Homo sapiens: one gene and its partners. The protein of the gene in region 6 purifies or fractionates together with the protein of the main gene of each other region. This does not show direct contact. Each region holds a gene or a part of one and is shown on either strand. Other genes may lie near its edges. The genes, in order: KPNB1, CHD8, NUP153, CHD4, AICDA, KPNA5 and SKP2.

What was found.
Region 1: the proteins of KPNA5 (region 6) and KPNB1 purify together in Homo sapiens (affinity purification with mass spectrometry; 2 studies listed by BioGRID and IntAct, with this or other methods). This does not show direct contact.
Region 2: the proteins of KPNA5 (region 6) and CHD8 purify together in Homo sapiens (affinity purification with mass spectrometry; 3 studies listed by BioGRID and IntAct, with this or other methods). This does not show direct contact.
Region 3: the proteins of KPNA5 (region 6) and NUP153 purify together in Homo sapiens (affinity purification with mass spectrometry; one large-scale study listed by BioGRID and IntAct). This does not show direct contact.
Region 4: the proteins of KPNA5 (region 6) and CHD4 purify together in Homo sapiens (affinity purification with mass spectrometry; 2 studies listed by BioGRID and IntAct, with this or other methods). This does not show direct contact.
Region 5: the proteins of KPNA5 (region 6) and AICDA purify together in Homo sapiens (pull-down; one study listed by IntAct). This does not show direct contact.
Region 7: the proteins of KPNA5 (region 6) and SKP2 purify together in Homo sapiens (pull-down; one study listed by IntAct). This does not show direct contact.

What each region holds. Positions count from the first base shown.
Region 1 is NC_000017.11:47,673,919-47,677,418, reverse strand, and holds part of KPNB1 (importin subunit beta-1), read right to left. Parts: intron 2,782-3,500; coding exon 2,637-2,781; intron 1,011-2,636; coding exon 928-1,010; intron 400-927; coding exon 292-399; intron 1-291.
Region 2 is NC_000014.9:21,393,624-21,397,123, forward strand, and holds part of CHD8 (chromodomain-helicase-DNA-binding protein 8), read right to left. Parts: intron 2,270-3,500; coding exon 2,194-2,269; intron 1,730-2,193; coding exon 1,675-1,729; intron 1,497-1,674; coding exon 1,289-1,496; intron 863-1,288; coding exon 654-862; intron 573-653; coding exon 1-572. UniProt on the Homo sapiens protein: ATP-dependent chromatin-remodeling factor, it slides nucleosomes along DNA; nucleosome sliding requires ATP. Acts as a transcription repressor by remodeling chromatin structure and recruiting histone H1 to target genes.
Region 3 is NC_000006.12:17,637,426-17,640,925, reverse strand, and holds part of NUP153 (nuclear pore complex protein Nup153), read left to right. Parts: intron 1-861; coding exon 862-987; intron 988-3,155; coding exon 3,156-3,500. UniProt on the Homo sapiens protein: Component of the nuclear pore complex (NPC), a complex required for the trafficking across the nuclear envelope. Functions as a scaffolding element in the nuclear phase of the NPC essential for normal nucleocytoplasmic transport of proteins and mRNAs.
Region 4 is NC_000012.12:6,593,880-6,597,379, forward strand, and holds part of CHD4 (chromodomain-helicase-DNA-binding protein 4), read right to left. Parts: intron 2,259-3,500; coding exon 2,127-2,258; intron 1,552-2,126; coding exon 1,455-1,551; intron 772-1,454; coding exon 580-771; intron 1-579. UniProt on the Homo sapiens protein: ATP-dependent chromatin-remodeling factor that binds and distorts nucleosomal DNA. Acts as a component of the histone deacetylase NuRD complex which participates in the remodeling of chromatin.
Region 5 is NC_000012.12:8,602,860-8,606,359, forward strand, and holds part of AICDA (single-stranded DNA cytosine deaminase), read right to left. Parts: intron 2,627-3,500; coding exon 2,356-2,626; intron 2,064-2,355; coding exon 1,948-2,063; intron 1,479-1,947; coding exon 1,425-1,478; 3' UTR 1-1,424. UniProt on the Homo sapiens protein: Single-stranded DNA-specific cytidine deaminase. Involved in somatic hypermutation (SHM), gene conversion, and class-switch recombination (CSR) in B-lymphocytes by deaminating C to U during transcription of Ig-variable (V) and Ig-switch (S) region DNA.
Region 6 is NC_000006.12:116,687,711-116,691,210, reverse strand, and holds part of KPNA5 (importin subunit alpha-6), read right to left. Parts: intron 1,892-3,500; coding exon 1,758-1,891; intron 1-1,757. UniProt on the Homo sapiens protein: Functions in nuclear protein import as an adapter protein for nuclear receptor KPNB1. Binds specifically and directly to substrates containing either a simple or bipartite NLS motif.
Region 7 is NC_000005.10:36,162,111-36,165,610, reverse strand, and holds part of SKP2 (S-phase kinase-associated protein 2), read right to left. Parts: intron 1,967-3,500; coding exon 1,855-1,966; intron 1-1,854. UniProt on the Homo sapiens protein: Substrate recognition component of a SCF (SKP1-CUL1-F-box protein) E3 ubiquitin-protein ligase complex which mediates the ubiquitination and subsequent proteasomal degradation of target proteins involved in cell cycle progression, signal transduction and transcription.

The DNA of each region.
Region 1 (3,500 bases), on a different chromosome or scaffold from region 6:
CTCACTGCAACGTCCACCTCCCGGGTACAAGCGATTATCCTGCCTCAGCCTTCCGAGTAGCTGGGATTACAAGCGCCTGCCATCACGCCCGGCTAATTTTTTTTGTATCTACAGTACAGACGGGGTTTCACCATGTTGTCCAGGTTGGTCTCGAACTCCTGGCCTGCCTCGGCCTCCCAAAATGCTGGGATTACAGGCCACTGCGCCCAGCCTGGTCGATATTTAACTATCTTTCCAACTGTTGTTTTCTTCAAAGAAGACTGGTTAATTAGATTGTGTGTAGATACTCACCCCCAAATTTTCCAGAAGCAGCTGCATCACCTCGTCACAGAAAGGTATGATGTTGGATTGCAGGGCACGGCACAAGTCTCCCACTAAGCCCACAGCTGCCAAACAAACCTGCCAAGAATCAAGGAAATAATCTTCTAACAGAAAAGGCTGCCTGCTGGGGCAAGATATTATTTTTAACTAGCTGCTGAGCTTTTATCACTTGAACCTAGAGTTAAATCCCTCTGCCGAGATTAATTTTTCAACAACCAACATGGCAGGCAGGGAACAAAGACTATCCGAGAGAGATCACTGATAAAGTTAAAAAAAAAAAAAAAAAAAAAGCCTTGCTCTCCAGGGTGCTAATAGCTCAACTTTATAGCTGCTCCTGCATTAGTACTGTCTAAGCAAATAAACAGTCATCTTGTCCACCATTATCTGTTACATCTAATATCTTGTCCACCGTTATCTGGTACATCTAATATCCTGTTTTTCATGGACTACTTCCAGTTCAAACGTTCAGGCAATGAATAAAGTAGCTTGCCTTTTAGGACAATGTATCAGGAAAAACTACTTAAGCTATAAGAACCTGGTTTTGCGTGCACTACAGTGACTGTCAGATATAAATGGGAACATACTATTTTGAAAAGCACATCCTACCTGGTATTCAGCATAATTTTTTAATCCAATGCCCAGGAAGGGTTTAAAGGCCTCCATGTACTTGAGGAATTCACCACCCAACACTGTAATGAAATAAGCTATTAGCCAATGACAGCACCACGGGTTAACACAGAGGCAGGCAGAAATAACCCATCCTACCTCTCCCAAAATGTACTCGCTCCACTCAACAGGTTGGGTGAAATGTGCTTTAGTTACCGATTCCATCATGAAGACATTAAAGGCTTGCATAAGCCAAATTTATTACTGCTGGAAGGGCCCTAATTCATACGCCACAGAGACAATGCCCACTGTCCACAGAATAGGGCTTTACTCTGACTAATACAACCAAGTGGTATGACCCTCAAGGAATGTCAAGGTTAATTTTAAATGGGCTGAACCAGCAATACTGACTCTTGTCCACCTCCTCATCTGATAATAGCATGTCCTTTCTGCAAGCCAGCTTCAAAACAGGGTCCTTAGGCAATTCCATCAAGGGCTAAACAAGCCACAGCCAGGAAAAGCAGCACTGGGCTTCAGATCCAAATCAGCCACTCCAGGAGCCAAAATTAACTTCTTTGCCCTTTCAGAGGAGTGGTCACATGTTGACAGACCAGTTGGACATAGGCTGTTTATGCCAAAAATAGGTCTAGTCCTCAGGAGAGTGGTCCTCAGGTAAATGGCCTTAGCAATGTACTTACAGGCCACCCCTGAAAAGGCATATCAGATTCCTAAAGTGCTTCGTAATGCCCCTTCAAAGAGTCTTAAGTCAGATATGGCTTCCCCAAACCAATTTTGCAGTCAGACATGTAAAAATCAGAAAATCAATTCCTAGAACTCGCTCAATGTTTCATTTCATCCCATACCAGGCACCATGATGTGTCAATCTTAGTCCAAAGCACTACAAACCAAACCAGGTGATGACAAGTACCAGGAAAGAAAATAGAAACTTTTAGCAGGGCACAGTGGCTCATGCCTATAATCCCAGCTACTCAGAAGGCTGAGGCAGGAGAATTGCTTGAACCTGGGAGGTGGAGGCTGTGGTGAGCCAAGATGGTGCCACTGCACTCCATCCTGGGCAACAGAACAAGTCTCAAAAAAAAAACAAACAAAAAAAAAAAACAAAAAAAAAACAACACCTCTGCCAATCTCCGTTGCAAACTGGCTCCCCATTTAAATGGACTGACAAGGCAGTTATACAAATTTAAGTGGTGTGCACTTAAGTTCAATCTAACTTTGAAGTGACTCATGCCCCAGTAAAAGGACTATGCTTTCTATAGTCAAAAATTCTTTAATGCTCTGACAAGGAGGCCCAGGAGTTTGAGACCAGCCTGAGCAATATAGTGAGACCCTATCTTCACACACAAACAAAATTAAGCTGGGCCCAGTGGCTCACATCTATAATCCTAGCACTCTGGGAGGCTGAGGCAGGAGGATCACTTGACTCAGGAGTTCAAGACCAGTCTGGGCAACATGGCGAAACTCCATCTCTACCAAAAATATAAAAATTAGCTGGGCATGGTGGTGTGCATCTGTTAGTCCCAGCTACTGTGGGGGCACTGAAGTGGAAGGATCATGTGAGCCCACGATTTCAAGGCTGCAGTGCGCCAAGATCGTGCCACTGCACTCCAGCCTGGGTGACAATTATTTAAGGCCACTGAAATGCCTACATTCCAAAGACATTCCCTGACCAGACAGTATTTCTCACCGACCTTCCACCAGTGTGCTAACTGCCATCAGGGCATCCTCTTGTACTCCCCCAGACCCAGCTGTGCTTTGGAACATCCTTAACAGGGAGGCCATAACCACATCAGAGATCTGCAAAGCATCTTGATGTTGCACTTTCCGAAGAACATTCTGTGAAATGAGTAAGAGTTCAAGATCAGTTGATTCCAAATCTCCCAATCAGAACACTATACCTTTTCTTTTTAAAATCAATTAAGTCCCTTGATATTTTTTAATTTTGGGAATGCCAAATGTATTTTATACACAAAAACATTGACAGTACCAATCATCAGCAATACATTTTAACATTTCTCCTGTTTCTCAATTCAGAACAAACGTGAGCTGATCCTCCGTTGTGCAGAAGGTCATGTCCTCTCAATTTCATTTGTCTTACTGTCTGACAAATCCCTGCTGGTAGCCGCCATAGTCCAGTCTTACTGGAATGATAGTTAAATTACTTCAGCTTTAGAGAAGGCCCTATCACCTTAGAGCTCTTATTCATAAAACAAACAAAAAGCAACCCTTCCTATATCCTACCTATTTACAGATGACCTAGAAATAAACTTGATAAAATCAAACCAACCTGACTTCTCCCATCAAACATTCCTTCCTCACTCGTTTGTTTCAACTAATGTCACTGACATTAGGTCAAACAGCAAATGTTTCAAAAGATGACGGTACAAATTCAAGGCTTTATTTTTAGCCAAGTGAACTATAGCTGGGAACCAAATCTGACTGAGCTAGGCTTGAATAACCTAATGAAAAACCAAGAGTTTTTTGGTTTTCAAAATAAAAAAACCAAAACCATTCAAGCTGCCAACACAAATGAGCTATACATCTGGAAGGAACCA
Region 2 (3,500 bases), on a different chromosome or scaffold from region 6:
ACTCCGGGAAACCAGAGGGGTAGTATCAGAGGGGGATACTCGCATCTCATAGTCTTGTGGGGTTGGTCGGCTCCTGGCCACCACCTCGTGCTCTAGCTTTAAAGTCAGACTCTCCAGACTGGGGACCTGGGTAGCTGTCTCCTCGGGTGACTTTTCAACAGGAGCATCTGGGCGCAGGGGCAGTGGTGAGGCAGTGCGTGAGGTATACTGCTGGTGCAGCAGTGGAGTAGAGCAGCGTGACAAGGATGGAGCTGGTGCTCCTGCTTGATGGTTCTGCATATAATTCATACGGGCAGCCAGAAAAGAGAAGTCTGGGTCCTGCATGATGTTGCAGTCTGTTTGGCTCACCCCATGGCGGGCTGCCCCTCTTAGAAGCTCCCCATCATGCCGAACAGGCTCCCACCATTTGGGCAATTCAGGACCAGGAGGCTGACACAATGCCAGCCGATCTTCCAAAAGGGGGTGGCATAAAACTTGTTCCCGTAAGCGCCGAAGCAATTCTATACGGTAGAGAGTCCGTGAGGCTCTCTCCTCAGTGATGGGCTCAATGAACAGGTTAGGGTCGGGGGGTTCTGCAAGAGACAGGAGTAGAAGAAATTAACAGAGTTGCTTCTGTTGGCATCCATCCTCACCCACTCTGCAATCTTGCTTACCATCTCCAGCTGCTGGGGGAAGGCGGCATACTTGGCGGCACATGGCCACAAAGCCATGGAAGTACTTGGTAAGGCTTTCATCTGTCTTTTTGTCTAGTCGAGCAAAAGTGCGGAAGCGATCCCAATGGAACTGCATGGTGTCAGGGTCATATTCCACACCAAACGTAGACACCACTCGATAAAAATCAGTTTGTTCACGCCTTGTCCATCTACAAAAGGAAAAGTAGGGCAACAATAATCAGAAGAACACATCAGAAGAACACAAGAAAACTGGTTATTTTTTAATGTGTTTTAGAATATCTGAAAACACAAAAATTGAAAGTAGACGCAAAAAAAAAAAAAAAAAAAGGCCCAGAAGAGGTAGTGAGAGGTACTCTGTAATGAGTAAGAATTACAGAGCCAAGGGGGAAAAGACACAGACAAATATCAATGAAAATGTCTACACAGGAGACCTACCTGAGAGTTAATGATTACTGCATGCAAGTGAGGTTTTAATTTCTACAGGTTTAACTACCCAAGGCAGAAAAGATGGTCCCTCTGTAGAGAATTCCAAATAAATCCTTCCTGAGATGGCTTTCAGTATAGGGACCATAACTGAAAACACAGATCAGCACAAGTTCCCAGCTATATTTTACCGTTGTTGTTTCTCCCGCCGTGCAATTTCTTTCAGCTTGAAGGCTGCTTCACAACGCCGCCTTCGCCGGTCCCCACGTTCTGCAGCCTCTATCTTCATTTGTTCTCTCTTGTAGCTGCGCTGATACGCTGTTACTAGACGCCGAAGCCTAGCTGTTAGGGCAGAGCCCGGAGGCCAGAATAAATGGCCTGGCTGTTGGGTCACCTGGGCTGTGGAAAACAAAGTAGAATGAATAGGAAGTATAGCAAGGGTAGTAGAGGCAATACTAGTATTTTAACCCACCCAAAGGCAAAGCTCTTAGAAATCCCAGGATAGGACAGAATTCAGTGAATAATTCCCCAACCCACCACCCCACACAGAATTATACTAGTTGACCTAGAAGTTTACCTTCATCTCCATCAATCACTGAGATCTCCTCATCCATCATCATCAAGGGATCACCCTAGAGAAGGAGATCCACCCAATAGGATGGAGCGGGGAGGGAAAGGGGGGGAAGTTGGCACTCTGAAATCACTTTCTTGTGTGTGTCCTTCTATGGCACCAAGGGATCAAGAAAAACTTCTAAAGAAATATATCCCCACAAAAACTTGGAAACAATCAACTAAAAGAACAAGAAAGTAGAACCTGAAAGGTCAGTTCCTATTAACGACTCAAAGATAATAGAAGTCAGGAATTTATTAGTCAAATAATATCTTTCAGTGTCCAGCTCCTCCATAAAGTTATCCCTGATCTCCCCCTACTGGCATTACAGTCCTTTCCATTAATATTTTCTATTCTCAAATGGTATAATTCATTTTCCATTTTGTATTATAAATTAACCAATATATTTCAAGATTCAGAGAATGGTTGAAGACTTAAAACTATTTAGTAATAGAGAAAAGTGAGACTCAAATGAGAATTCCTTACCTCATCATCTTGGTCCTTTGGGGGACCTTGGAGTGGTTTATATTCAGGATCTTCACAATCTTTATCAAAGTCAACCCTAAAATTATGGAGAGGCACAAGAAAATGTTAATAATGTATCTTCTATCACTAAGGGAACCTAGGATGAAGACCTAGCCACACATATATCCAGCATGAAATAATCTTTATTAGTATTATTTTTGAGACAGGTCTCACTCTGTCGCCCAGGCTGGAGTGTCATGGCCCTATCACAGCTCACCGTAGCCTCAACCTCCTGGACTCAAGCGATCCTCCTCCCTCAGCCTCCTGAGTAGCTGGGACTACAGGTGTGTGCCACCGCACCCGGCTAATTTTCATATTTTTTTAGAAGTGGGGTTTTGCCATATTGCCCAGGCTCATCTCAAATTCCTGGGCTCAAATAATTCACACGCCTTGGCATCCCAAAATGCTGGGATTACAGGAGTGAGCCACCATGCCTGGCCTTATTTTTATTTTTATATATATATTCTTTGACACAGAGTCTCACTCTGTAGGCCAGGCTGGATTCCAGTGGCATGATCTCAGCTCACTGCAACCTGTGCCTCCCGGGTTCAAGCGATTCTCCTGCCTCAGCCTCCTGAGTAGCTGGGATCTACACATACCCACCACCATGCCAGGCTAATTTTTGTATTGTTAGTAGAGATGGGGTTTCACCATGTTGCTCAGGTTGGTCTCAAACTCTTGGGCTCAAGTGATCCCATCCTGGCCTAGTCTTTTATTTATTTATTTATTTATTTATTTTTTGAGATGGAGTCTTGTTCCATCACCTGGAGTGCAGCAGTGCCATCTCGGCTCACTGCAACCTCCGCCTCCTGGGTTCAAGTGTTTCTCCTGCCTCAGCCTCCCAAGTAGCTGGGATTACAGGCATGCGCCACCACTCCTGGCTAATTTTTTTTGTATTTTTAGTACAGACGGGGTTTCACCTTATTTGCCATGCTGGTCTCGAACTGATGACCTTGTGATCCACCCACTGTGGCCTCCCAAAGGGCTGGGATTACAGGCATGAGCCACAGTGCCTGGCCTAGTATTTAATTTCGTGTTTACAGGAATGGCAGGCCAGGTGCAAAACTTTGGGTCAGTCTGGTATAGCATCCAATGGAATACAAATAATTATAAGAAATTGACAATGTACCATTCGTAATTGCTTGAATTTGAAACACTTTGATCAACACAGTTCCTTTTTCTTGACTTTTATTATGTAATTCTTCCTCCTACCCAACTATTTACTTTTTATTATTTCATTTGTATGGTTCACGCTTTTTTGTTTTTAT
Region 3 (3,500 bases), about 99 Mb from region 6:
GTGGGCCAGGCATGATGACTCATGCCAGTAATGCCAGTGCTTTGGGAGGCCGATGTGGGAGGATCACCTGAGGCCAGGAGTTTAAGACCAGTCTGGCCAGCCATAGTGAGACCCCATGTCTACAAAAAAGTAAAAAAAAAAATGAGCTAGATGTGGTGGCATGCGCCTGTGTTCCTGGCTACTTGAGAGGCTAAGGTGGGAGGATTGCTTAAGCCCAGGAGTTTGAGGATGCATTAAGCTATGATTGCACCACTGTACTCCGGCCTTGCTGACAACAAGACACTCACTCTCTGTTTTGAAAAAGAATGATTTCTGTGGCTGCATAAGTATTTCATCATGTCACTGTTATGTAATTTATGTAACCATATACCCTTATTTAATATTTTACCATATAGGTTTTCAATATTATAACTGAAGGATATTTTCAATTATATTAATAGTGTGAATTTCTAAAAATGAAATAATTGCTCAGTTGAAAATTACTTTTTTTGATTAGTTTTGTAAATTGTTGTGTAATCAGATATTTCATGCAGTGGATGGGCTTGCCCTAGTTGCCATATCCTCTCCAGTTTTTTAGTTTGATTGTTTTGATTATCAGTCAGTTAATTGGACGATAATTATAGTTTATATTTTTTTGCCTTTTTATTGGTGGGGGAAGTTATATAGTATGGGAATAGTGTTTTTATCTCCTTGTAATGGCAAATTATCCCTGTAAAGTCATTTGTTTATTGAATTAAAGTGACTTTTTTCATGAACTTTTAGAAATTAATCCAAAAGATGGTTTTGAAAGATTTTTAAAAATGCATTTGAGAGTCCAGTGTTTTATTTGGCATAATGTTATTAAATTTAAAAAAATTACAGCTCATCATGTCACTACAGTGAACAGTACAAATTGTAAGAAGACACCACCTGAAGATTGTGAGGGTCCTTTTAGACCTGCAGAAATCCTGAAAGAAGGAAGTGTTCTAGATATTCTGAAAAGCCCTGGTAAGATAATTAAAAGATAAGCCTTTTGATTACAAACTCATGATCTCAATTTAATGTCATTTTGTATTATACTTTAGGCTTTTAAAAATTTCTGACTAGTTTGGTAGGAGATTTACTTTTGAATAGAGATGTAGTTAGGTGTAATTCTTTTGCTGGAAATATCTTACAAGCCAAAGGACTCTATACTAAAATGAAATTTCTAATAGGCAAGTGTAGGAGGAGGAAATGGATTCTCCATTAATAGAGGTAGGTCAGTGAGGAATAAGAGTAAGTAAACCTGATGATACACATAGACATGTCTTTCTCTTATGAGAGCACTGAACTGCCTTCTTGAATTATTCCCCAGTTTGGTAAATATGGAACAAGGCCAAGTGGAAAGCATCTGCTGAATTGTAACATATACATAGGGAGCAGTACTCACTTGAATTGAAGCAAGATTTGAAAGCTAGTAGGTAATAATTAGAAAGGGGATAAATAGTTCTCAGATAAGAATAATTTTTTGTTTGAAAACAGGATGTTCATAATTCCATTTATGATACATAGTATAAGAATGTAAAACTTGCCAGGCGCGGTGGCTCACCCTTGTAATCCCAGCACTTTGGGAGGCCAAGACGGGCAGATCACTTGAGGCCAGGAGTTGAAGACCAGCCTGGCCAACATGGCGAAACCCCATCTCTATTAAAAAGAGAAAAAATTAGCTGGGCGTCCTGGCATGCACCTGTAGTTCCAGCTACTCGGGAGGCTGAGGCAGGAGAATTGCTTGAACCTGGGAGGTGGAGGTTGCAGTGAACCGAGATCGAACCACTGCACTCCAGCCTGGGCGACAGAGCAAGACTCTGTCTTTAAAAAAAAAAGAAAGGAAAAGAAAAAAAGAATAAAAGAATGTAAAACTGTGAGATAATCTAATAGCTCAGAAAGAATTTAAACGTACCCACCAGATGTGTCCATGTGTAATAAGATAGGTTTTCTTAAAAAATAAGGTTGGCTTTTACAACAGGATTTAGGAGGATTCAATTTTTCTGGTCCAGCTCTCTCATTTTATAGATAAGTATACTGCCTACAGGAGTCCAGTAGCTTGGACAGTTCCATGCAGTTATGGTAGAACTCCAGAGTGCTTGTGCTGGAATTAACCAAGTAGTAGGCAAGCCTCAAATGTGTATAGTCTGTCTTGTGTATCTGGGGTTACACTTTGCATTCATGATGCCAACCTCCCCCTGCTCCCTTTTTACTTCTTAAATAGGAAATGTTTGGGGAGAATCTTCATTTGACTGAAATTAGGAAAATCTGAAAAAGTAGAAGAAAAAGAAATCTGTAATGCCTTGAGATGGTTACTGTTAATATCTTGCCAATCTTAGTGATTTAAATTAATCATAAGCAAAATAACACGTTGCCCACTGGGAATAACTCAAGCATGTGGTATTTTGTCCTTAAGCTAAAAATAGCTCTAGGCTGGATTATTTTGTGGAACTAGAAAACCTCTAATAACCTTCTACATCTTCTCTCCTTTTAATTTCTTTTTCTTTGGCGGGTAAGGCTGGAGAAACAGATCACAGATGGTGGTGTTGTGTGTAAGACAAAAGTTAACTGGTCCTAAGTAAACAATTACAAAAGTCATTCTCATGAGTAAAATACAGCTTGAGTGAATGAACTCAATGACAGCAGTTTTGGTAACAGAAGGACTTGCTCAGCTGATTTTACTGAAGGTAGAGAATACCACAGCAGTAGGTTATGACTGGACAAAATTCAAAGATGACATTGAAGCCATTTGGTGTAGCCAATGGAACACTTAAAAGAAGAAATGGATGAAGGAGAAAGAGGACTGCGAGTATTGTGTGTTTGTAGAGAGACAGAATATAGCAAAATGTGGATGGCAATAATACATATCAGTAAATTAGTACCATTGAAAGCATCAAACTAGAAATTCCTTGAAGGAGAAGGTGATATCCTGTAAACAAAACATCTTTTGTAGAATTTTAAATGGTTTAAGTGTAACTTATTAGGTAATTGATAAATATGATTACTTAAGTGAAAAACAATTCTTAAGTAGTTCATCTTGGATTGTAGTAAGTGTGCAGTGAGGTAAACGTCTTCTCAGTAATAATAATCAAATTAATGCTTTGATTTATAAAGCTTCTCTAACGTTGCACTCTCTCCTTCGTTCATTGTAGGTTTCGCATCGCCGAAGATAGATTCTGTTGCTGCTCAGCCCACCGCAACAAGCCCAGTAGTTTATACAAGACCAGCAATAAGTAGCTTTTCTTCTAGTGGAATTGGGTTTGGGGAGAGTTTAAAAGCTGGGTCATCATGGCAGTGTGATACATGTCTACTCCAGAACAAAGTTACAGACAACAAATGCATAGCCTGTCAAGCAGCAAAATTGTCACCCAGAGATACTGCTAAACAGACTGGAATTGAAACACCAAATAAAAGTGGCAAAACAACTCTTTCTGCATCAGGGACAGGCTTTGGAGACAAATTTAAACCAGTGATAGGCACTTGGGATTGTGATACCT
Region 4 (3,500 bases), on a different chromosome or scaffold from region 6:
GGCTGGAGTGCAATGGCGCAATCTCAGCTCACTGCAACCTCCACCTCCCGGGTTCAAGCGATTCTCCTGCCTCAGCCTCCCAAGTAGCTGGGATTACAGGCGTGCACCACCACATCCGGCTAATTTTGTATTTTTAGTAGAGACGGGGTTTCGCCATGTTGGTCAGGCTGGTCTCGAACTCCTGACCTCAGGTGATCCACCAACCTCGGGCTTCCAAAGTGCTGGGATTACAGGTATGAGCCACTGCGTCCAGCCAAGCCTTTCCATACTAATTCTACTCATAATTCTACTTCCCTCAACACACAATCATTCCCCTAGAACTGATACTCTATGGATCCACTGCTAATCCTACCCAGGGCTCCATGCCCTCAAATCTTCCGCTGTGTACATGTGTTTATCCACTATCACATTTATCTACTATCTACTAAACACATGTGTACATGTGTTTATCTATTATCCACAGTGTTCTTGAAGGTCAGAGACCAATTTTTTTATTCCCTTATCTCTCTACTCAGTGTAAGTTAAGGCTTCAAACACAAAACACCCACACAAAAAACTATCCACCCCAGATTTCCTTACCTCCTTGTAAAGGGAATACAGGAAGACTGCTGTCTGTACAGTTTTCCCAAGGCCCATCTCATCAGCCAAGATGGTGTCAGTGCCCTGAGCCCAGGAGAAGCGCAACCAATTCAGGCCCTCCATTTGATAGGGGTGCAGGGTTCCACCTGTAGCATCCAGGTACTCTGGCTGTCGCTCATACTTCACTGTTGGCTGAAGGATGAAACAGAGAAGTCAAGAGCTGGCAAGGAACTCCCCTCCTCCCCTAATAGAGCAGCTGCTTCCTCCTCACTAGTCTTCACGGATCCTCTTGGGGAAGAGCTCCGGAAAATTCGGAGGGAAGAGATCCCCTATGATTACTGCAATTTCATGTTCAGTTTAGGGTCCTCCAGGAAACAGGGCTTAACCAGACCTGATTTTGATCCTACAGATCACTGAGGAAAAGCACGTCACAGACTCCCTACCAATACAATAATTCTACTAGTCAGGATCCACCAGGTAAATAATCGTTATGTCCCTCTTAGATTCATCTTTTTAACTTTAATCACCCTCAAATTACACTGTACAAACAAAACCCAGAGGAACTGAGCCTGAATTAAGCCAGATTCCTATGTAAGTGCATAAAAGCTAGGCTATGTGGCCCCTCCCCCCAGACAACACTTCTTCAATCATTCAAAATATACCTCCTTTTTTTTTTTCTGATGACAAAAGAAGAAAGTAATCCTAGTGCTTTCTGATATATAGAGATGTGGAGAAGTGGGGAAGCCGACTTTGTGAAGTAATCTCAGCTACAAAGTTACTATCTGCATTTCATTACTTAAGAGTACCATCATTAGACTGCAGCAAAGATACATTGTCCTACCCAACAAACTACAGTCCCTTCCACCCCCACTCACATCAACTGTTGGCGTTTCTGGAGGCCTCTCCAACTTCCGAAGCTTCACCTTCTTGAGCTTCTTGCCTGGTCGGCCTTCCTCACCCCTCATTAACTCCCTAAAGAAGAAAGACATCACACAGCTGCCCAAAATCCTTTTCTATAGAAGAAACAACTTGGCCAGGCACAGTGGCTCACACCTGTAATCCCAGCATTTTGGGAGGCCAGCACTTTGGGAGGCTGAGACGGGCGGATCACCTGAGGTCAGGAGATCGAGACCAGCCTGGTCAACATGGTGAAACCCCGTCTCTACTAAAAATACAAAAATTAGCTGGGCATGGTGGCAGACGCCTGTAATCTCAGCTACTCGGGAGACTGAGGCAGGAGAATTGCTTGAACCCAGGAGGCGGAGGCTGCAGCGAGCCAAGATCGCACCATTGCACTCCAGCCTGGGGGACAAGAGCAAGACTTCGTCTCAAAAAAAAAAAAAAAAAAAATCAGCTAGGTGTGGTGGCGTATGCAAATAATCCCAGCTACTCAGGAGGCTAAGGCAGGAGAATCGTTTGAACCAGGAAGTCGGAGGTTGCAGTGAGTCAAGATCACGCCACTGCACTACAGCTTGGTGACAGAGCAAGACTCCATCTCAAAAAAAAAAAAAAAGAAACAACTCTATGCCTCACCCAAAATCACTCACCTGTGATTCCAATAGCTCTGCTTGAACAGGTCGTAATCCTGGATCTCCACATCCTCACTCTCCCAAGAAGCCTGATCGTAAGGTAAGTCCCGCCACTTGATCAAGTAGTGGACGTGGCCCTTCTTGTCCACACTGCAAGTCCAGGAGAGAAAACCCTCAGAGCCAGAAAAGGCAACCCTCCTCACTTCCTCTCAAAAACTGGCAATACCGTTTGTTTCACACCAGACCTCTAGGTATGCCACAGATCACACGTTTTCAGAGCCTCTACTGTACCAGTCTCTGACCAAAAATTATCTCTAATTTATACTTTCCTAGAGCTCAAACACCAGAATTCAGTCAGTTAATAATTAACATAGAGTGTTGGCCGGGTGCAGTGGCTCACGCCTGTAATCCCAGCACTTTGGGAAGCTGAGGCAGGCAGATCGCTTGAGGCCAGGAGCTCAAGACCAGCCAGGCCAACATGGCGAAACCCGTCTCTACTAAAAAAAAAAAAAAAAATTAGCCAGGCATCAGGCCGGGCGCGGTGGCTCACGCCTATAATCCCAGCACTTTGGGAGGCCAAGGCAGGCGGATCACCTGAGGTCGGGAGTTCAAGACCAGTCTGGCCAGCATGGAGAAACCCCGTCTCTACTAAAAATGCAAAAATTAGCCGGGCATGGTGGCAGGTGCCTGTAATCCCAGCTACTCGGGAAGCTGAAGCAGGAGAATTGCTTGAACCCGGGCGGCGGAGGTTGCAGCAAGCTGAGATTGCGCCACTGCACTCCAGCCTGGGCGACAGAACGAGACTCCATTTCAAAAAAAAAAATTAGGCAGGCGTGGTGGCACACGCCTGTAATCCCAGCTACTCTGGAGGCTGAGGCAGAGAATCACTTGAGCCTGAGAGGCGGAGGTTGCAGTGAGCTTAGATCATACCACTGCACTCCAGGCTGGGCCACAGAGCAAGACTCTGTCTCAAAAAATATAATAAATAAATAAATAAATAGGCCGAGTGCGGCGGCTCACGCCTGTAATCCCAGCACTTTGGAAGGAGGAGGTGAGCGGATCACAAGGTCAGGCGATCAAGACCATCCTGGCTAACACAGTGAAATCCCGTCTCTACTAAAAATACAAAAAAAAAAAAATTAGCCAGGCATGGTGGCGATGGCCTGTAGTCCCAGCTACTCGGGAGGCTGAGGCAGGAAAATGGCGTGAACCCAGGAGGCAGAGCTTGCAGTGAGCCAAGATCACGCCACTGCACTCCAGCCTGGGTGACAAGTCTGTCTCAAAAAAAAACAATAATAATAAAATAAATAAATAAAGATAATAACATGAAGTGTCAGGCGCAGTAGCTCACGCCTGTAATCCTAACACTTTGGGAAGCTGAAGCAGACAGAT
Region 5 (3,500 bases), on a different chromosome or scaffold from region 6:
TGCTCTTGTCGCCCAGGCTGGAGTGCAACGGCACGATCTCAGCTTACTGCAACCTCCACCTCCTGGGTTCAAGCGATTCTCCTGCCTCAGCCTCCCAAGTAGCTGGGATTACAGGTGCCTGCTACCACGCCTGGCTAATTTTTGCATTTTGAGTACAGACGGGGTTTTGCCATGTTGGCCAGGCTGGTCTCAAACTCCTGACCACAGGTGATCCGCCCGGCTCGGCCTCCCAAAGTGCTGGGATTACAGGCGTGAGCCACCACGCCCGGCCCTCTCTCTTTCTTTTTTTTTTTTTTTTTTTTGAGAGACAGGATCTTGTTATGTTGCCCAGGCTGGCCTTGAACACCTGTGTTCAAGCCATCCTCCCTCCTCAACCTCCCAAGCAGCTAGAACTATGAGCGTGTGCCACGGTTCGCAGCTTTATCATTCTGTTTTGTCACAACTCTCTTATATAGTTAATATACCTTTGGGAGAAGCATCACACACATACAAAATGTAGCAAACCTTGACCTGATTGGCATTTCTGAGATGAAGAGACCCACGAGAGCCAATAGATTTTCCTCTCCCCAACATTCAAGCAACTTCCTTCCAATTGTTTGCTAATTATGATATGTGAAGTTTGTGGGTGTTTCTAAATTAGGGACTTCCTTAAAAGAGTTTGCGTTTCCAGAAGATTTGCTACTTCAGACATCAACCCATTATTAGGGTGTCTTGTTCACAGTCCTCCTGCCCATTTTAAGATCCTTTATTAAAGTAGCTTGAAGGTGACCATGCATGGTCTATACCTCCATCCCCACCCATAACAATCTTCTTTTGTACAAACATAAAAACATGCTTCTGCTGATTAAAACATACAGCGCATGATTGGATATTAATGCTTTGGAGAGATGGTTTGGGGTCACAATCACCCAGATACTCTCATTAGGAGGTCCTATAGATCATGGCCTGATGGAAGAGTTTGTGTTACTTGAAAGTAAACGTCAAGGGAAAAGAATAGAAAAATCTATCACTAACACCACTGTTAACTCAAATGAATCAAATAATAAAGGATGTTGATATAAAAACATTTGATCCTCTCACCATGCTTTTTAGGATCTACCTTCTGCTCTCATCCTACCTAAAAGTCATAGAAAAACGTTGACACTTTAGGATGCTCCCAGGTCCTGCAGTTCTGTTATTCCCAGTAGGGGACAATGTTGCATTCAAAACTGCACCAATTGCAGCACGTCCCTGGCCAGACCTGTGTTCCTTCTCTATTTTCAAGACATAGATCTTTTTAAAGAGTCGTATATAAATATTTTTTCTGTAAACTCTAAGAAAGTGAGAGTTGAAGAATAAAAACAGAGAAGACTTGAAGGACTGTTTTTTATCCACTGTCTTCAGCAGAGATATTTCATCGTGTGTGACATTCCTGGAAGTTGCTATCAAAGTCCCAAAGTACGAAATGCGTCTCGTAAGTCATCAACCTCATACAGGGGCTGTAGAGAAAGAGAGAAGCAAATTGAGTGAATGGCTTCAAAACGAGGTTGGGGGTCGGTGGGGCCGGAGAGTCTTCTAAACTGAGTGGATGGCTTTGTAACATGTTGGAAGAAAGTAAATTGGGAAAGAGTTTTTTTGGGTTTTTTGTTTGTTTGTTTAAAAAAAAAAAAAAAAAAAAAAAAAAAGGAGAAAAGAATTCTGACCAGGAAGGAAACGCAACCCTGGGGAGAGACAGAAATTTAAAGATGTGAAACAACAAAAGAAAGAAAAGGGAGGGAAAAGGAACCTTAGCAGAGGGCTCTGAATGGTGAAACAGCAGAAGAAAAAGCTGATGTGGAGGAGAAATAAAGTTTTCATCAGATGAAAACTGAGAGTGATTGAACAATAAGAAAATATAAGAAATATACGAAACTCCAAAAAAGACTGTAGAGAAAGAAAGAAAATTTAAAAAGCGAGGAAGCCCCTTACCAAAAGGATGCGCCGAAGCTGTCTGGAGAGACGAACTGAATTTTCATGCAGCCCTTCCCAGGCTTTGAAAGTTCTTTCGTGGTTTTCTACAAAAGTATTCCAGCAGTAAAAATAATCTTCAAAAAAAAAAAAAGGAAAAAAAGGCGGGGATATGGGGGTAGAAGACAGTTCAGGTTCCAAATCGAGGGGAAAGAAGCAACCCTGGCCCCATTTTCTCATTTCCTCGGGGCCTTGTCTCTGAGCCATTCACTCTTTTCTCTGCTTCTAATCTTTAATTTCGGCTCCAGAGGTGAACCAGAATCCCCGCCCACTTCTTCCCCTCGAGCTTCCCCACTAACTCATTCATTCCGCATCGCAATCCCGAATGCGGGCTGCTGCACTGCGCCTGCGCGGAAGGCCCTTTCGCACCTTTGAAGGTCATGATGGCTATTTGCACCCCGGCGCGGTGCAGCCGCCGCAGCCCCTCGGGCTCAGCCTTGCGGTCCTCACAGAAGTAGAGGCGCGCGGTGAAGATCCTCAGACTGAGGTTGGGGTTCCCTCGCAGAAAGTCGGCCACATGTCGGGCACAGTCGTAGCAGGGGCTCCAGGAGGTGAACCAGGTGACGCGGTAGCAGCGGCCAGGGTCTAGGTCCCAGTCCGAGATGTAGCGGAGGAAGAGCAATTCCACGTGGCAGCCGTTCTGGAGAGACAGAGAGGACCACGCTAAAATTCACTGACTTTTATTGCGGCTCTGGTAGCCTTAGTCATTGTCTCCTGCAATGATCTTTGGGGATGCTTGCAGCTATTGTCCTTGTGTTACAGAGAGGCTAAGCAACTTGCTCAAAAGAGCACACCAGTAGGTAGAGCTGAACCCTTGGCAGCACTAGTCCTGCAGAGTGAAGGAAGGCTATGGGTTTTTGTGGAATGAGGAAGACGAAGTGCGCTGAGTTGGGAGGAAGCAGCATCACACTACCTCACCGAAGATTTAATTTGTGTTTATGAAGTTGCTTTTTGCACCTTTTGAGAAGGAAAATGGCTAGAAGTGCCTGTTGATGTAACATTGTGGAAATATACCTGGACCACTAGGTGGAGGCAGGACAGTTTATGAGGACCATTTGGGAGGATCTGAAAAGGGGAAATAGATTTTGGTAAAGCAGACAGATGGGTATTGTAAGAGAAGTAATAGGCACTGCCATGAGAAGTAAATGAAAGTGCTTGATAAAATCAAAGCCTTCTGAAATAGAATGTGTCATGTCACCGAATAGGAAGGAGATTGGGATGTATTCAATACAAATGTAGGCAAAGAAAATTGCATGGTAATATAACCATCAAACAACGAGCCAGACGATGACCTTCCACCCCACGGATGCTTCCCTGAGATTCCACCAAGCCCAGACGTCACAGCGTGTTAGGAGAGAGGAGATACCCGTGGGCAGAAGTTTATGTAAACCCATCTGGATTTTGGTGAAGAAGTCTCTTGGAAATGTAATTCTCTCGGGTAGCCGAAAGATCAATTTAATTAATCATCAGCCGAGGCTTCTCTGAGTTTTCTGGGGATCACCATGTTGAATGTA
Region 6 (3,500 bases):
TGTCTCCAGGACAGAGTGCAGTGGCACAATCTCGGCTCACTGCAACCTCCACCTCCTGGGTTCAAGCGATCCTCCTGCCTAAACCTCCTGAGTAGCTGGGATTATAGGCGTGCGCCACCATGCTCGGCTAATTTTTTTATTTTTAGTAGAGACGGGGTTTCACCATGTTGGTCAGGCTGGTCTCAAACTCCTGACCTCAGGTGACCCGCCCACCTAGGCCTCCCAAAGTGCTGGGATTATAGGCATAAGCCACTGAGCCCGACAATAATACATATTTTAAAACAACACAGTATAACAACTCAACTACACAGCATTTACACTGTATTAGATATTATAAGTAATCTGGAGATGACTCAAAATATACAAGAGGATGTGTGCAGGTAATATGCAAATACCATGCCATTTTACATAAAGGACCTGAGCATCAGTGAATTTTGATATCTGCAGAGGATCCTGGAACCAAGGGATAACTCTACATTTCCTAAATCAAAATTTGAGGAAAACAAAATCTGCTTATATTCTTTTTGACATCTAAATAAATATCGTTCTTCTTTTTTTTTTTTTTTTTGAGATGGAGTCTTACTCTGTCGCCCAGGCTGGAGTGCAGTGGCATCAACTCGGCTCACTGCAAACTCTGCCTCCCGAATTCACGCCATTCTCCTGCCTCAGCCTCCTGAGTAGCTGGGACAACAGGCGCCAGCCACCACGCATGTCTAATTTTTTTGAGATGGGGTTTCACCTTGTTAGCCAGGATGGTCTCAATCTCCTGACCTCGTGATCCGCCCGCCTCAGCCTCCCAAAGTGCTGGGATTAAAGGGGTGAGCCAGGGCTCCCAGCCTGTTCTTCTTTAATATGTAAACAATCTTCCTTCTAATCATTTATTCAACACAATTTTTTTAGTACCTACTATAATGTATGAAGGATTGTGTTAGACGCTGTAGATAGGGAGATGAGAAATCATTATCATATTTCTGAAATAGGCCTTGCCTATTACATGCCTGTAATCCTAGCACTTTGAGAGACAGAGGCAGGAATATTGCTTGAGGCGAGGAGTTCAATACCAGCCTGGGCAACATAGCAGGACCCCATCTCTACTTACAGAATACAATAGAATAGAATACAATAGAAGAGAATAGGCCTTTTCTACTTTCTTCACTGCTAGTCCTTTTCATACATCAGTTTTAATTCACATGTGTGAGAACCACATTATTTTACTTACTTACAAATACTTCTACATTTAAGTACATCTTGGAATAAAAAATGTTGAGATGTACTCTCTTAAACAATTTTATATTCTTTATGTCACATATGAAAAGTATAAACAGAGATCCAGCTAATAAGACAATGGGGGAACAGTATGAATAGCATGGGAAGATGACAATAATTTACTTACGGGCAAGAATTATGAAAACTACAAAGCAGCAAATAATATATAATTAATGTTTCTTTAAGGGGCAAATTTTACAATGACAAATGGAAGTGATCTAAATAGATGCAAGAGGAAAAATTTCCTAGCAGTAGGGTAAAAATATAATTAACACAACAGGTTTATCAATAAAACAGAAAATCCATTTCTCCCAGTGACTAAAGTAGCACAGAGTTCTGTTTCACAAATTTGCAATTATGATGCCTGGAGTCTAATAAATAATAGATTTAGCTATATTCAATTTCTTAAAACATTTCCATTTAAAATTATCCAATAATTAGCAAATAATTAAAATTTTAAAAAACAAAATTAAATAGCTAAAAACACCTACCTGTTCTTCTCTTTTTTGTTTTCTAAGCTGTATTCCTTCTTCTTCTCTTCGTCTACGCATCTCTTGAGGATTTAGGGCTTTATTCTTATAACTTTTCATTCTATAGTTATCTTTCCCTGGACTAGCCATGGCATCTTAAAGGAAGGAGAAAAGAAAACAGACACTGATAACTCACTCTCTCAAAACAACATGAGACACTTAATCTAGCAACTAAATTCAGGCTCACTGATTAACAGGTCAACAAAACCCATTCTGAAAATTATGTACAAAGAATACATTCCCTTAATTCCACATCAAGATTAGAGCAAAATGACCACATATTTTAGAAATAATATCTTAAACAAATAATTTTGGTCTAAACAAAGACAAAGTTTACCCTATCTTATTGATTCTAAGATGCAACAACCTTTCCTGTCTCCCTAGCCCCCACAGTGTTTTAACCTTTCTGAAACATAATTACTGTCAGGAAATAATCATGAATTATTTGGGTTAAAAAAAAAGTCTTCTAAATTACAGTTTCTGGCTAGATCAAGAAATAACCAGCTTTGAAGTATCTTATTTTTAATGAAATATGATATTAGGCTCCAGTAAGCACATCTCAAATATTTATTGGGGTCTGGCTTCTTTCACTTACTGAAGGCATTGCCTTAAGAGCTATGGCCACAAGGGTCAGGACTTGAATTATGACTACAATATCAGTTTTTAGTACTCCAGTATAATTAGTTCTTTTGAAATACTAAAATACATGTATACTTTATTTTTAAGTAGTTTTATTGCAAATGTATTTTAAAACATTAACATTTATATACCTATTTTATAAATACATAAAATATATGCAAATATATTTCATATTTGAATATATGTGCTAGTTTTACTTTTAGAAAGTGAATTATAAACTTTAACAATGTAACAGTATTGATATCTTGATATTATCTTATAGGAATATTAAAATACTGATATTATAACCTATTCTGGACTTACACATCACACACACACAAAATCTGCCTAAAGCAGGGTGCCAACTTCAGTTTAACAGTAGATAGTGAGTACCCAGTATGTTATTCTGTTAAATTCAGAGGACATATCCATGTCCAACCAGAGACAATGTTGTGACCAATTAGCTTATGAAGTAAACACAAGAGAAGGAGAGGCTGGCATCTGTCTGCCATCCCTGATATTGAAGAGACAGACTAATGAATTGGCAAATTTTATTGTAAGGAGTACACTAAAATACATGCTTTAAATCTTGAGAGAGCAGTGAAGATATGGCAACTAATTGTGCCTTAGGGACTTCTGAAAGCTTCATGGGTATCCTATTTTAAAGGAAAAACAGGAAAGAGAAATGGGGAGAATCAAGCATTTCAAGCAGAAGGAATATATGCAAAGGCAAAGTTTTTGAAGAAGCCTTGCATAACCAAGAACAGTAAGAGACTAAGTGTGTCCAAAATGAGGATGCATGGCAGAACATAAAGCTATAAAGGTAGGTTAGAGGACATATGGTTCCTATAATGCAGCTGTGAAATTTGGACTTGATCCTAAGGAATAGAATTAAACAAATTAAGGAAAAGGTTGTTTTTACATAGTTCAGAGAGAGAGATAGGAAAGATGCTGAAGGCGTGAACTAAACAAGTTACTACAATGAAAACATAGAAGACAAGTTGGATTCTAGAAATATTTCTGAAATTGATTCAGTAAAAATTAGAGGCCAAATGAATGTAACAGATATCTGGTGAGGAAGAAAAG
Region 7 (3,500 bases), on a different chromosome or scaffold from region 6:
TAAGATATCCTTAAGAGAGTGGCACACTTTTGTATCTTTCTTGCCCAGACAGAAATCCATTTTGGCCTCCAAGGTATTGGTATTGACACCAGATCAGCACTGCTCTGGTTGTCTTGAATCTCATGCTTGATGTTTCCTCTTGCAAGAAGGCAAACTATAGCTTAACCAGCATTCAATAACAACAACCTGGGAGAAGTTTTGGAACAATTCATTTTCTTTCCAAATAATATACATTTTTTAGGAAGATGAACACCTCACAGAAAAATGAATTTGGGAGCTACCTGAACCCTAAGCCAAGCATAACTAGATATGGTATGATGGTTAAGACCGTGGAGTTAGCCAAACTTTAGATTCCTGCCTTTCCACTTATCTCTCAACCTACTATTCCTGACCCTGCAGTTTCCTCACCTCTGAAGCTGAGATGACACAAACACCATCACTTAAAATCATATGGAGGATTAAATTGCAAACACTGCACCTGTCACAAAGCAAGTGCTTAATAAATGTCAGTAATTACTTTTATGACAACTGAGATGAAGTTTAACAGACTCTAAGGGAGATGTAGGTCAAAGAATACAAAGCCACAGATATGCAGGATGAACACATCCCAAGATATAGTATACAACAGGAGAACTAGAGTCGATAATACTGTATTGTAGTCAGAATGTTTGCTAAAAGAGTAAATTTTAGGTGCTTTTGCCACAAAAAATAGGTAACTATGTGAGATAATGAATATGTTAATGATAGCAGCCATTTCACATACTTATAACAAAATATCATGCTGTATACCTTAAATATATACAATAAAATTTTAAAATGGGATTAACAGACTCTGCAAGAAGAGGATAAATGCATAGCTGGCAGAAAAAGAAAACCAAAGTGGGGTTGAGTGCGGTGAGGGTAAGTGAAACTTGCCTGCCACTTGCACCAGCATTCCAGGTGTGCAACCCTCTCTGCGGCTCTTCTAAGCAAACAACCCACACCTGTAAATAGCAGCACGCCCTTGAAGGCAAGAGGCTCCTGCTATCTCACACAGGGAGTTCTAAGTATGTGGAGGGAGAAGCCAGACGGATGGCCTTTAAACACAAAGCAAAGAATGACCAGGAGGTAGGATAGGGATGAGAAGGCATGAAGATAGTAAAAAGTTCCAGTTGATAAACATAGCCTTTTTCTTGCTCCAGGCCTGTTATTGCCTTTCCAGCTCACCAAGTCTTTCCACATGCAACTCACCTTCCACACTTGAAAAGTGTTGCCAAAAAAAGAGCACAACCCCACCAATGGCTACTCTGTGTGGAACATGTCTGTGAGTCAGGCATTACACCAGCATCTTCACATTTCATCCTCATAACCAGTGGTTTCCTCCTCATAACCATTATCCCCATTTACATATGGGGAGACTGAGGCTCAGCAGTGTCAACTAACTCACTCAGGTCATGCAGAGCGTAAGCAGCAGAGGCTGGGTGTGCACTCGGGTCTAACACCAAGCCTGTGTTCCCTCTCCCTATTGTGCTCACTGCTCAGCCCAGCGGCGTGAGGAACCGCTGTCTGCATGCACCTCTGTAACTCTCTCCGCACTTAAAGCACACCGCCTGGCCTACAGTCAGCATCCCATAAACACATGCTGCACTGAATACAGGGCAAAGAGGTTTCCAGACATTGGTAAGTTTATCCCTCCCAGGAAATTCCTCTTCCACTGTGAAATGAGGACACTGATTAATAAAAATATGAAGATACCTAGTTTGCTTTGCGCTGCTCTATTTTTCTTGGTTTTTAGTTTCATCAGACCAAAACGAATAAATAACCTTCCTCTCCTCTTCCTCCCCTACGTTTGCCAAAGGGGTGAAAAATACTTACGCTAGGCGATACCACCTCTTACAAACACCAGAGACCTTTAGCAGCTCAGGGAGGCACAGACAGGAAAAGATTCCCAAGAGCAGCTCATCCGGAAGGGAGTCCCATGAAACACCTTTGGAGGGAAAACAAGTGTTTGCCATCACCATTCTTTCACCCTATCAAGTCTACTGAGTCTTTTCAAACACATAAAGAATATACAACATTTAGCTTAAATGAGGAATTTAGCACAAATTAAATTACTCATCCTCACAATTATTTTTGTTTGAAAAATCATTTCTGTTGAACAGAAAAATAATTGTGGTGATGAGTAATTTAATTCGTGTTAAATTCCCCATTCCATCATCTATGTACCCTGAAGTGACCACCACACTCTCTCAGCAAATCAAAAAGAGAAACCCAGAACACTTTTCCTATTCTTCCCTTCAGCTCTAGCCAGCCAATCGGAGGCTGTGGCATGAAGAGTGGTACAGAGCAAGTCCCACCCTCTCAAATGTCATTCAATGACATTGTCAATTCATTGACATCAATAAGATATTGTGGTGCTTCTGGGTGCAAAGGAAGGCCTTGTTTCTCTCTGATGTGGACTCAGTAGTGACCTTATTTAAAAGGCAAATAAATCTTCTTCCCTTTCTGCTATGGTTGGCTGTGTCCCCACCCAAATCTCATCTTGAATTGTAGTTCCCATAATCCCCATGTGTTGCGGGAGGGACCCAGTGGGAGGTAATCAAATCATGGGGACGGTTACCTGGTGATAACCGCCCCTGTAATTTGATGCTGTTCTGGTGATAAGTGAGTTCCCACAAGATCTTATGGTTTTACAAGTGGCTTCCCCGACCCCTTTGCTCTGCACTTGATGCCGCCATGTGGAGAAGGACGTTTGCTTCCCCTTCCACCAAGCTTGTACGTTTCCTGAGGCCTCCCCAGCCAGGCTGAACTGTGAGTCAATTAAACCTCTTTCCTTTATGAATTACCCAGTCTTGGGTATGTCTTTATTAACAACATGAGAACAGACTAATATGCTTTCTTTCAGGTTTACAAAAGGCACAGTTTACCTAAAAGAGCAATACAAAAGGGTATTGTCATTTCTTAATTCAACAAATATTTACTGAGCTCCTACTATGGTGCCAGGTATCATTTTAGGTGTTGGGAAGGAGTAGTAAATCAGACCCAAAACACTACCTTCGTGGGACTTCATTCCAGTAATGCGGAACAGATAATCACACATCAAAAAATAAGTACATTATATGATATAGTAAAATTGATCTGTGCTGTGCAGAAAAATTAAACAGGGCAAGGGAGAGAACAGAGAGTTCAGAGCAGATGTTATTAAGTTTGAACATGGTGGTCAGGGAAGGCCATACTGAGATGACGATCACTAAGCAAAGGCTTGAACAAAGTGAGGGAGTGAGCCCTGTGAGTATCTGGTGTACGTGTTCTAGATCCAAGGAACAGCATGTGTGTTTGAGGCATAGCAAGGAGGCCAGTGTAGAGCGCAGAGGTAGGTGGGTAGAAAAATCAGAGAGCAGCCAGGTCATGCAGGCTTCCTAGGTCATGATAAAGCCTTTGGCTTTGACGCTGAATTCTATGAGGCACCACTAGAAGATTCTGAGCACAGGAATGACAGGCCCTCACGTAAGTTCAAAAAG